2 separate regions of the Homo sapiens genome follow, and region 2 is linked to region 1. The links come from fine-mapping of genetic effects on plasma protein levels. A gene starts in region 1. The other region holds a variant in brackets. All regions are shown on one strand. Distances are from middle to middle.

Region 1 (5,368 bases):
GTCAGAAAATCTCCCAAACCATACCTTTAAGATGCATCCAGAACCTCACTGGTTCTCGTGCCCCACTGCTGTCCATCATGTCCAAGCACCGTCTTGCCTCACTGGGATTGTAAGAGCCTGCTTACCCGTGTCTCCTCTGATCAGAATTCTCCAGTGTTGCCCTTCACCTCTCAGATTGAAAGCCTAAACCCTTCCTGCAGCCTGTAAAGTCCTCAGTGCTGCCTCCCCTTCTCTGCTTTTAACTTAACTCCTGCTATTCATCTGCTTTCAGTCACTGCTAATCCCCGGGGTCTACAGCAGTGCTGGGGACAGAGTAGATCACAATAAGTATTTGCTGAATGAATGAATGAATGGCAATTAACCTCAGCATTTCCTGGATATTACTGTGTTTGGTTCTGTGATGGCCTCTTTTGGGTGACAGATGAGCAATAAAGATAAGTCTTGGTTCTTGTCCTCTTAAGAACAGGGGGGAGTGCACTAGTCAAGACTCATTGGTTATAGAAAATAGAAATCTCATTCCAAGTTAGCAAAAGGGAATGTGCTGTCCCCAGAACCAGCGTTCAGAAAGCGCAGGGGTGAGGTGGAGCCCGGGACTCTTGCATCTGCCCGGCTCTTTTCTACCCACCTGGCCGCTCTCCATGCGTGGCTTCCTTCTCTCCAGCTGGTGTCCCTGGAGGCTGCAGCCAGAGCCACAGGCCCATCCTGGCTACTGCACTGGTGTTCGGTGGCCGCTGTAAGAAGTAATTACAAACGGGGTGGGTGGCTTAAACAACAGAAATCTGCTCTCTCAGTCTTGGAGGCCAGAAGTCTGAAATCAGTTCCACTGGCCTGAAGTCCAGCACAGGCTCTGGAGGAGCCTCTTCCAGCCTCTGGTGAGGGCTGCCAGCATCCCTGGGCTGTGGGTGCATCGTTCCCATGGCTGCCTCCGTCCTCACCTGGATTTCTCTTGTGTGCGTCAATCTCCCTCTCCTCTGTTTTATAAGTTACATACATGACTGCATTAGGGCCCACCCAGATAATCCACGATAATCTCTCTGTCTCAGCATGCTTAATTGCTTTTTAATAAACCATGTAAGGTGACATTCACAGGGTCAGGGACTAGGACAGGAATGTCTTTTTGGGGAGGAAGGCTGTGTTTCAGCCTGCCATGGCTACCATCCTTCCAAATCCACGAATGATGGGAGAAAGAGACCTTTCCACCAGCCCGTGTTAGAAGAGTCCCAACTCTGAGTGACCCTGTCTAGGCCACTGCAGAGCCCTGAGCCAGTGGGGAAGTGGGGCTTTGGGAAGGAGTGGGAGTAAGGAGGGGGCCTGTCACTTGGTTGGAGTTGGGGAGGGAGCTACCATTCCCCCAAAATAGGCAGAGCCGGGTGGCTGCTGGTGAGACAGAAACCACACAGCTCCATTAAATGGCATGTGGGGAAACATGATAACATAAGGGAGTAATGCAGGAAAGTGTGTTTGGGCTGGGCGTGGTGGCTCACGCCTGTAATCCCAGCACTTTGGGAGGCCAAGGTGGGCGGATTGCTTGAGCTCAGGAGTTGGAGACCAGCCTGGGCAACGTGGGGAAACCCTGTCTCTACAAAACATACAAAAATGAGCTGGGCATGGTGGCTGAAACCTGTAGTCCCAGCCACTTAGGAGGCTGAGGCAGGAGAATGGCTTGAGCCTGGGATATGGTGGTTGCAGTGAGCCAAGACTGCACCACTGCACTCCAGCCTGGGCGGCAGAGGCAGAGGGAGACCCTGTCTCAAAACAAAAAGAAAAAGAAAAACAAACAAACAAAAACCTTTGCTGGGAAGCAGGAGAGTTTCCTGGAAAGGAAGGCGGTAGGTTTACACCTTTCCTGGGTGCTCAAATTCAAAGAGATACTGTATTTCTGGTTTTCATCTCTTTGCAATTCATTTACCTTTTTTTTTTCCTCTCTGCAGAACACAAATCCGGTCAAGTTTTGGGTTGTCATGAGGGAGAACTGACATAGCGCTGGGCGGTGAGTTCAGCCAGGTTATCTCTGCGAGGACACCGGTCGGCGGCGGACAGCAGCACGCGGCGTCCAGGACCCGGCCTTCCTAGAGCTTAGGTCACTGTAGCCTCCAGGGGCGCTCCGAGTCCATCTGGAGGGCCGCGAGGCTTCCAGGCTGGAAGGAGGAATAGGGAGAAGGAGGAATAGGGAGACCTGGGGCAGTGTTACAATTACAGAAAAGGGAGAGGCGAGGTCCGCTGAGTCCTTGGCCTGGGCAACAAGGCACACTGAAAACTGGGTTCCTTTTCGACCCGCATCGTGCGCGCCCTAGAAATGACAGCCAGACGGAGCAGGGTCTAAGGACGCTGAAAACCCCTGACGTGGGCGCGCCGGGTGCGGGTAGGGACGTGGAAGGACTGGGCTAGCCACAGGAACTACAGCGCTGCGGACCGGGTGAGGGGTCCCGGCCCGAGTCCCCACTTGGGGCGCAGAGGTGTTTCTGTAAGGGGACAAAGGGCACTCCTCGGCGCGATGGGCGACTTCCCCAGCCAGAAAATGAGAGGGTTAGACGAGGGGAGGAACTTCCTCAGCCACTTGGCCCGGCACAGCGACCGCCCCAAGTTCAGAACCGCTAAGTCAGTCCGGGGCGCTCCGGCCCCTTCGTCCCGCGCCCCGCCCGCCTCCAGCCCGGGCCCCGCCGCCCCCGTCGCCCCTGTCGCCCGGGTCGCCCCCGCCGGCCCTGGCCCCGGCCCCGCACACCGGCAGGGGGCGCCCGAGCGCAGCTAAAAGGCTCGGCGGGAGGTCGGCGGCCTCAGTGGCGGAGCGCGGCTGCCGGTGTGCGGCCGGGAGCGATCGCCGCGGGGCAGGGGCGCGGCGGGCACCGCGCAGAGCGCGCAGAACAGACGGACGGCGGCGGGGACCCGACGGCGGCGCCTCGGCACTCCCCAGACTCCGGCCAGCGCCCCCCTGCCAGCCGCAAGCACCCAGCCCCGGCCCACCCCGGGCTCTCGATGGCCCCCGAGGCCGGGGCGACCCTGCGCGCGCCGCGCCGGCTGTCCTGGGCGGCGCTGCTGCTCTTGGCCGCGCTGCTCCCCGTCGCCTCCTCGGCGGCGGCCTCAGGTACGCGCCGCGCCCGGGCCCCCGGCGCTCCTCAGCTCCCCGCGCACCCTCCTGCGCTCGGGCCCCGTCGTCCCGCTCAGTGCTGGCTACGGGTCGTGTCACTAGCCTGTGCGTCCTCGTCACTCGCGGGTCGGGGCACTTGGCGCCCTGTGTGGGTGGCGGGAGCGGGGACGCCTCGGTGCCCGGGGACCGCAGCGCGCTGGCGTTTAACTTTGCCGTCGCCCGCCTTGGAGTCGGGAGGCTCCAGCCGTCTAAGTGTCCCGGGAGATTCAGGCACAGCGGGGAAAAAAGGAAAAGAAAGGCGACTTTCAGCGTGCGGACTGGGGTAATGCCTTTCTTTGCCCAGAATTTCTCGGGAGCGTAGGTGGTCATCCTACTTTCTCCGCGTTCACCTCTCGCGAGGCAGGATGACGGGCGCACTCGGGAGACCGGAGGGAGGCAGAGCAGGGCTGTTCTAGAAGGTCGTGGGGGAAAGGCTGCGAGCTGCCGCAGGGCGTCGGGTGCCTCTGCGCTCCAGAGGAGAAGCGCTCCAGTGCCAGCTCGGCTCCAGGCGGCAGGAGGCCCGCGCGCCCGGGGGGAACGTTCAAGCTGGGAGAAAATGTTTGTCTTGAGAGGAGGGAGAGGGAAATGAGAAAGCTGATTCCAGAGAAACTCGCCCTTCCCCAATGGCTGAGGCTGCAGCCAGGATGGATGCTTCCTTTGAGAGCAATGCTTTTCAGAAAATGCTAGCGCGCTCCTGTCAGATTTCTTGCAAGCTTCCTGCAGAGAGAGACAAGTTTGTGGCGAGGTTTTCATTCCTAAGCCTTTGGCGGCCCTTGTTACCACCTCCTTTGCAGGCATTTTTACACTTGAAACTGGCTTTTAGGTTATTGGTTTGTAGAAATCCAAGAAGCAGACAATGATCGTCAGATACTATTCCAACGAGGGTACCAGTTTTATGATGCTATTTAGTGTATATATTGTTCTCTTACTTCAGGGGTAAAGGAAGAAAAGTTGGGGATCACATTACTTTGTGACTTTTTGGTAGATACATCATCCCAATGCTTGGCTCAGGTTTATGCGAGGTATTCTGATGCCAATGCCACTTTCTCATAAAAGGCAGTGCCTGCCGTAGGGTCTTTTTCTTCCCATTAGTGAACTCTAGGAAAGTATTCACTGAATACTTTGCACAGTACTTGAGAGGAATAAAACTAAATAAAGTCTTCCAACTTCCCCACCTACAACTCCTGGCTTTTGTTTTTCTAAGTGAAAATTTTCAGAGTGCTGGAAGAGTTTTTGTTTCTGAAAATGATCTGAAACTGGAACCAGTGCTGCCCTGGCTTTGTGGCGATTCCAGCCTTCTGCTTTTCCGATTCCTCTGCCACCTGCCCGTGGGTTGCATGTGAGTGGGTCCGAGCGGGGTTGTTTGTGAGAGCTCCTGGAATCCCACCGCGATCTGCACTCTTGCTTTTTCGCCTTCTGCTCTGTGAATCACTGTGCTGAGGAATGCTGGGGCTGGACAGCTTCCCAGCCCTTCTCTCTACTGTGTTGACGTGGGATCTACAGTCAAATGATGACCAGACTAGAGGTGGACAAAGGAGGACAGGCACATTTCAGAATGAAATCTACTAAATTTAAATTAAGTAATAGAAGGATAGAAACAGACATAGCAACCTGTAGATAGCTCCCCATGCTGTGGATGAAATTATGGGGTACATAACTTCTTTCATGGGCTCCCTTTGACAGCAACGTCATGGATAGACTGCTCCCTCTCTCTGGTTGAACTAATGCATGGACCAAGCGAGCTGCTTGTGTCAAGCTCTCCCCTTCACCACCCTTTTGGGGCCAGAATCTCTGTAAGGAAATTACCCACGGCCACATAATAGTGGCTCCGAGGGACTTTGCTTAAAGCAGGACACACTGAAGATCTGGATAAGCCCTTCAGTGTAGGGTCAATTAAACATAAAACAAAATAAGCAAGCAGTGTCCCCTCCTCCACTCATATTCATCCCTACAATAGGATACTATGCAAACATTAAAATTATGATGGCCTTGCCAGTCTGGTATGATACATTTTTCTAAACACATGTGGATGTACTCACACATGCACATATTTGCAGTGGGTATCTTAGGATGGTTAGGGATGATTTTTATTTTCTTCTTTAAAGAAGCTTTTAGGGAATTTTCCATGTCAAAACTATTTTCAAAGTAATACTAAGATTACTAAGATGCTATTTTCCTTTTTCACAGTTGACATTTGCACTGAGGGTGCAAAAGCTTGATGGGTAAACTGCGGGTGTCTTACTG
Region 2 (5,368 bases), 330 kb after region 1:
GATAAATCTTAGAGTCCATAGCAAGCAAGATGTCAGATTACTTCTTTGCAAAATGATAAAATACTTGTAAATAATGAGACAAAGCAATAAATTTCAAGAGACATTAATGCTCCTTCCCAGAAATTCCATCAGCATACCCCCCACCACCCACCACCCCACTTCACACTGCCTCCCCCAGCCAATAAACAACTTAAGTAAAACTAGATGTTTGTTATGGAAATACAGCACACACACACACACACACACACACACACACACACACACACACACACGGGGACAGAGAAAGAAAGAAAACAAATGTGGCAAAATGTTAACATTTAGGGGATCTAAGTAAAGGTATATGGAAATTCTTTGTACTATTCTTGCAACTTTTCTGTAAATCTGAAAATCATTTCAAAATAAAAAAGTAAAAACAAAACCAAAGCAACAATGAAAAATCTTGAGGCTTCCATCTATACTTCATATGCTATTAAATAAACACAAATGTCCATACTCTTTTACTCCTTTTTAAATAAATCACCACTAACAACATCGTTTTCTGATAGGCAAGTTACAAAACCATCACCTGTGTTATCATCTTCTGTTAGGTCAACATTCTTAACCTGTCTTCCTGAAGCCATGTCTTGTTACAACAAGCAAACTTATGTGTTTTCCAAGTCTCTGTTGGTGATACATTAACAAATCACTTCTTTAGGTAGGAACCTTCTGCAGATGGTCTAAGTTCATTCATTATGTTGACTTTTCTTAGTGACTTTTAGAGAATGACCTTCTGACTTTGTCTAAAATTTGAGAATCATCTCAGAGTAGGACCATATTATATGCTGACAATGCAGGCCTGAAAGTTTGAATGTCTTCTCTAAATTGAACAAAAACCCATAAATTACCAGATCCCAAAATACCACCTACATCAAGCTTTTACCTACAGGTGGTACAACCAAAGGAATGATTATTGATATCTCCTGCATGACACACACAACTTGTTGAAAGAATTTCTGGGAAGAAAGGATGATGCCTTAGAGATAAAAAATATATACATATGCTCTAGAAGATCAGCTCACAGAGCAACCAAATGCATCTGTGGTCCCTGCTTCCCACTTCTCTGCAGACCCATCAAGAACACAGCAACTTCTAAATTCTTCCAACAGAAGCAGTAGTTCATATTTATGTAGATTTTAGAAGACAAAACTCTTTCAAACACATTATTAACTCTGATTGTCTGAACAGCTCTGTGTCTTGCTTTCTCCACCTGAAAAGTAGGTTCACATCTGCTGTTCATACAGTCCCAAAATACTAGGAAGATGAACACAACAATTAGGGGTGGGGTAAATTGAAAAATTGGGTTGGAGGAGACAGAGCAATCTTTGCATGTTTTCTCAGTGCCTAAGACTTCAAGAAGCCCATAAACACCCCACAAAAAGTATGAAAGATTTGTCATTGCCAATCCCCAAATCCCAACCAAAAAGAAGAAAAAGTTGAGACCTAAGGACTGGAGGAAGTTATTTTGTAAGTGAGAAACCAAATCTAGTAATAGCCATTAGAAGACAAAGTATGTGTTAGCCTCTAATTAATGGGTAGTGGACACAGGCCAAGGGATTAAAAAACAAATGAAACACAGTTGCATACGAAAAATTACACAAAACATACAGATACATCCATAGTGTGGTTTGGACACTGCCACCTCTGGCCTGGTCTTGCTCAAGTTCAGGCTCTTCTACCAAACTCCACATCCTGATTCTGTCTGTCCTCGATCAGATCCACACTGGCCTGCTCAATTCCAGGCATCAAACCTCCTATCCCAGCTTCAGATAGAGCTCAATTTCTTTATCTACAAATTCTCACCTTTCCGTTTTGAAACACACAAAAATCTCTCGGCCTCAAGTACACAGTCTTCATCAACTTCCTGCTGATGATCAAGTACTTTCTGCTGTAAAAATTTATCAGCTGCAAGAATTGCTGGAGATGGAACCCTCCCCAAGTCAAACACACTCAGCAGAATGCCAGATGCTCACTAAGGCCTCTAGAGCTACGGATGGAGGGTTTAGCTCTTCCTGGGTTTGGATAGGGAAAGTCGAGTCCTTCATGCTGAGGCTGGATGAAGTCCCTAATCCTCACCCTTCTTTTCCCCAGGTTGCGTCCTGTCTTTCCTATGTCTGGGATTAAAACCCATCTACTTAGGCCAGGCGCAGTGGCTCGTGCCTGTAATCCCAGCACTTTGAGAGGCCGAGGCTGGCAGATCACCAGAGGTCAAGAGTTTTAGACCAGCCTGGCCAACATGGCAAAACCCTGTCTCTACTAAAAATACAAAAAAAATTAGCCGGGCGTGGTGGTGCACGCCTGTAGTCCCAGCTACTCGGGAGGCTGAAGCAGGAGAATCGCTCGAACCTGAAAGGCAGAGGTTGCAGTGAACTCAGATCATGCCACTCCAGTCTAGGCCACAGGGAGAGACTCCATCTCAAAACAAAACAAAAACAACAACAAAAAAGGCATACCATCCACTTGCTAAGTGATTGTCTTGTTGGACCTTTGAGATTTCATATGTTACTTACTCATACCTGTGGGTTACACTCACTCAACAAAATGTGTCAGTTCAGCCCTGGGGCTGAAAACGCAGAGGCCAGCCATGAGCGAGAAAGAGTTTCTGCTGACAGGGAGCAAATCTGGTCTCAGAAGTCAGCACTTTAATAGCATTAGGAGCCATATTATATATTAGCATATGGTAAGTATCAGCTCAGATAATGTTAACTAACCTTCTACACACACCTAACCCAGGTAGCTCTTTTAAAAAACGAACAAAAACCGGGCGCGGTGGCTCACGCCTGTAATCCCAGCACTTTGGGAGGCCGAGGCGGGCGGATCACGAGGTCAGGAGATCGAGACCATCCTGGCTAACACAGTGAAACCCCGTCTCTACTAAAAAATACAAAAAAGTAGCCGGGCGTGGTGGCGGGCGCCTGTAGTCCCAGCTACGCGGGAGGCTGAGGCAGGAGAATGGCGTGAACC[C/G]GGGAGGCGGAGCTTGCAGTAAGCCGAGATCGCGCCACTGCACTCCAGCCTGGGCGACAGAGCGAGACTCCGTCTCAAAAAAAAAAAAAAAAAAAAAAAAAACGAACAAAAAATGTAAGCATCTGCAAAGCCAAGGTCACTGTACTAAAAATGAAGGCGTAAGGAGTTGTGAGACGTCCTCCCTAAGCTGCAGTGGAAGGCAGCCCCCAGGAGCAAGAGCCTTTAAACCCTCTTCCAGGAGATCACACATCCTGGTGTGAACAATACCTAACTATTTATGGAAAGCTGTGATCCAGGAGTATCCCCTTCTTGGAGTTAGAAGAGGGCTGTGCCAATGGGGCATTCCTCCTGGCAGAGTTCCAGACACTGTCAAACCCACGTGGAGGAAAACGGCCAAGCTGAACTATCCTGAAACTCTCCAAATCCTACCACACGGCATGCACCTGTTGTGCAGTTCTGCGAGGCGAGGTTTCCTCCCAAGCATGCAAAGGCCGTGCTGGGCCTGCTCAAAACAGCCAGATGCCCAGCTTCTGGTAAGCAGGAAAGTCGAAGGATGAGCTGGTGCTGTGGTGGTGGGAGGTTCCTGCACTCCTGGGAGCAGCCCTGGGAAGTGTCTCGTGTGTCTAAGGACTGTCCTGTAGGTGCTTGTGCTTTCACACCGTGCTGGGCCGGGTGGTTGCAGTGTGAGCACTGTCCTTCTCCGGCTGCGTGCTTGCTTGCTCTAGGCAGCACCTCACATCCTTCCAGACCATAGGAGTCTCCGTGTCAGGTGCCACACCCACCATTTTTCTTTTCTCTACTCCTCTCCCCAGTAAAAGAGGCAACTGATGTCAGCCCCAGGCGCTGCTGCTGCCACCATGTCCACCAGGTTGCCATGCTCCCTGGCTGCCAGCCTGATGCCCTGCCAAGGTTCCTGGTGCCCACCGCGGAATGGACGGGGTGTAGGCTGAGGGCAGGTCTGCATGGACACTGGGTGATACACACCAAGCTGTGGTCAGTACAGCCCAGGCCCCCACAGGGCCTGTTGTCACCAACCCAGGCTGTTTCCCCTCATCTCTCTTTCCCTAAGAGGAGTTTTTGCCCAGGAATTTCCCTGGGCCCTCAGTGAGCTTGCCTTGTTGGACTCCAGACCTAGGCAGACATCGCCTCCTGAGCAAAACAGCCCCGGCTGAAAGCCCCCACGTGGAACCCACACACAATGGTTTATGCTGGTGCCCTTGGCTGGAAGCTGCAGGGTCCAGCTTTGAGCAATGGGAACAGAACACCAGGGCACCACATCTGAGAGTGTCAGGGCAAAGACCCCTCAGCCAGATGGACTTCATGTTCCTGCCAGAGAATTCGTAGCCCGGATTATTCTCTGGAAGACAGTGTCACAGCCAAAACTGAACACCAAGCTTGTTTCCCACTGTGTCAGAGCCTGGGTGTGCTCTACCCCAGCCAAGCTCAGAGCTCTGCAAATGAGAAGCGAGGTGAGCAAATGAGTGGAGACTTCGAAGCTTTCATCCTGTAACAAAGGGCAACCGCCTCCCTGTGCCATGACGCAGGTGGCAGGAGACCCGGGATGAGTGAAGGTGCAGGATGACGGCGGGATGGGGTCTGCTTCGGGAAGTGCCGCCAAGGCAACCCCTGAGCCCTGCCTGGGTTGATGAGGCAGGCTGAGCTGCCTAGAGTCCTCTCTTAGGGGACCTCCTTGGCCCTAGGCTGAAGCAGAGGGCGCACAGCCAGAGTTCCCAGTCAGAACGGGGCCTGTTAGAGACGTTCAGGAGGGCGCCAGGCTCGTTAGCATGATTCTTTTTCCTTTAGAAAAACAGACTCTCCTGGAACAACTAGGCCAACTCCAGCTCCTGCCCCACCCACCTGAGTCTGGCCAGGCAGCCCGAGCCCAGCGCCCAGAGCTCTCCTTGACCATGACCTCATCCCCAAACCCTCCAGGCTGGGTCCCTGCCCTCCACCGCATGAGGCAGGGAAAGAAAGGAGAAGGGAAGGTCCCAGTTCAAATATCAGGGTGCCTGTCCTCTCCCCAAGACAACCTCCCTGTGCCACCCCTAGGGAGGGTCTCCCATGTCATGGACAGCCGCACAGCTCTGCTGAGCTGCCCCCCACAGCAGTGGGCCCAGCCCTGGGCCTGGGGGACATTTTCATAATACTGACGCCCAGCCATCCTGCCCTCACCTCGGGAATCCTCACCTCCAATTGGAGGGGAGGTGAAGCAGAAGGCACGGATCTTTTTAGAAGTTCCTCAGATGGCTTTTAAAAGTTCCTGCATCTTGTCATCAGGGGCCTCTGCACTCTGCGGTATAAATTATGGGGACAGGGAAGACACACCCCTGCCCTCACTGAACTCCCAGCCACTCTGGTGGTTCCTGTT

Which allele goes with the higher level. Alleles are on the strand shown, and positions count from the first base shown. The strength of an association depends on the size of the effect and on how common the allele is.
With allele C in place of G in region 2, the plasma level of the protein whose gene starts at base 2,777 in region 1 is higher (weak association).

Evidence for each region. A credible set is the group of variants that fine-mapping cannot tell apart. PIP is the posterior inclusion probability: the model's chance that the variant is causal. The UK Biobank Pharma Proteomics Project read protein levels with antibody pairs (Olink). The fine-mapping took linkage between variants from a reference panel, not from the people measured, so its PIPs are less certain.
Region 2: its variant is the best candidate, but not a certain one, in a credible set for the plasma level of the FNDC1 protein (UK Biobank, PIP 0.85).

The regions. Positions count from the first base shown.
Region 1 is chr6:159,166,624-159,171,991 of GRCh38, forward strand. FNDC1 (fibronectin type III domain containing 1) reads left to right here and starts at 2,777. Exons shown (of 23, transcript NM_032532.3): 1 at 2,777-3,082. The coding sequence starts at 2,974. FNDC1-AS1 (FNDC1 antisense RNA 1) reads right to left here and starts at 3,384. Exons shown (of 4, transcript NR_121668.1): 1 at 3,189-3,384; 2 at 1,910-2,138; 3 at 626-731. RefSeq lists a silencer at 2,656-2,825 and an enhancer at 3,632-4,131.
Region 2 is chr6:159,500,922-159,506,289 of GRCh38, forward strand. No RefSeq gene overlaps it. Among named protein-coding and RNA genes, the nearest start is that of LINC02529, 120 kb to the left of the region's middle. The variant C/G (reference allele first, on the strand shown) is at 3,001.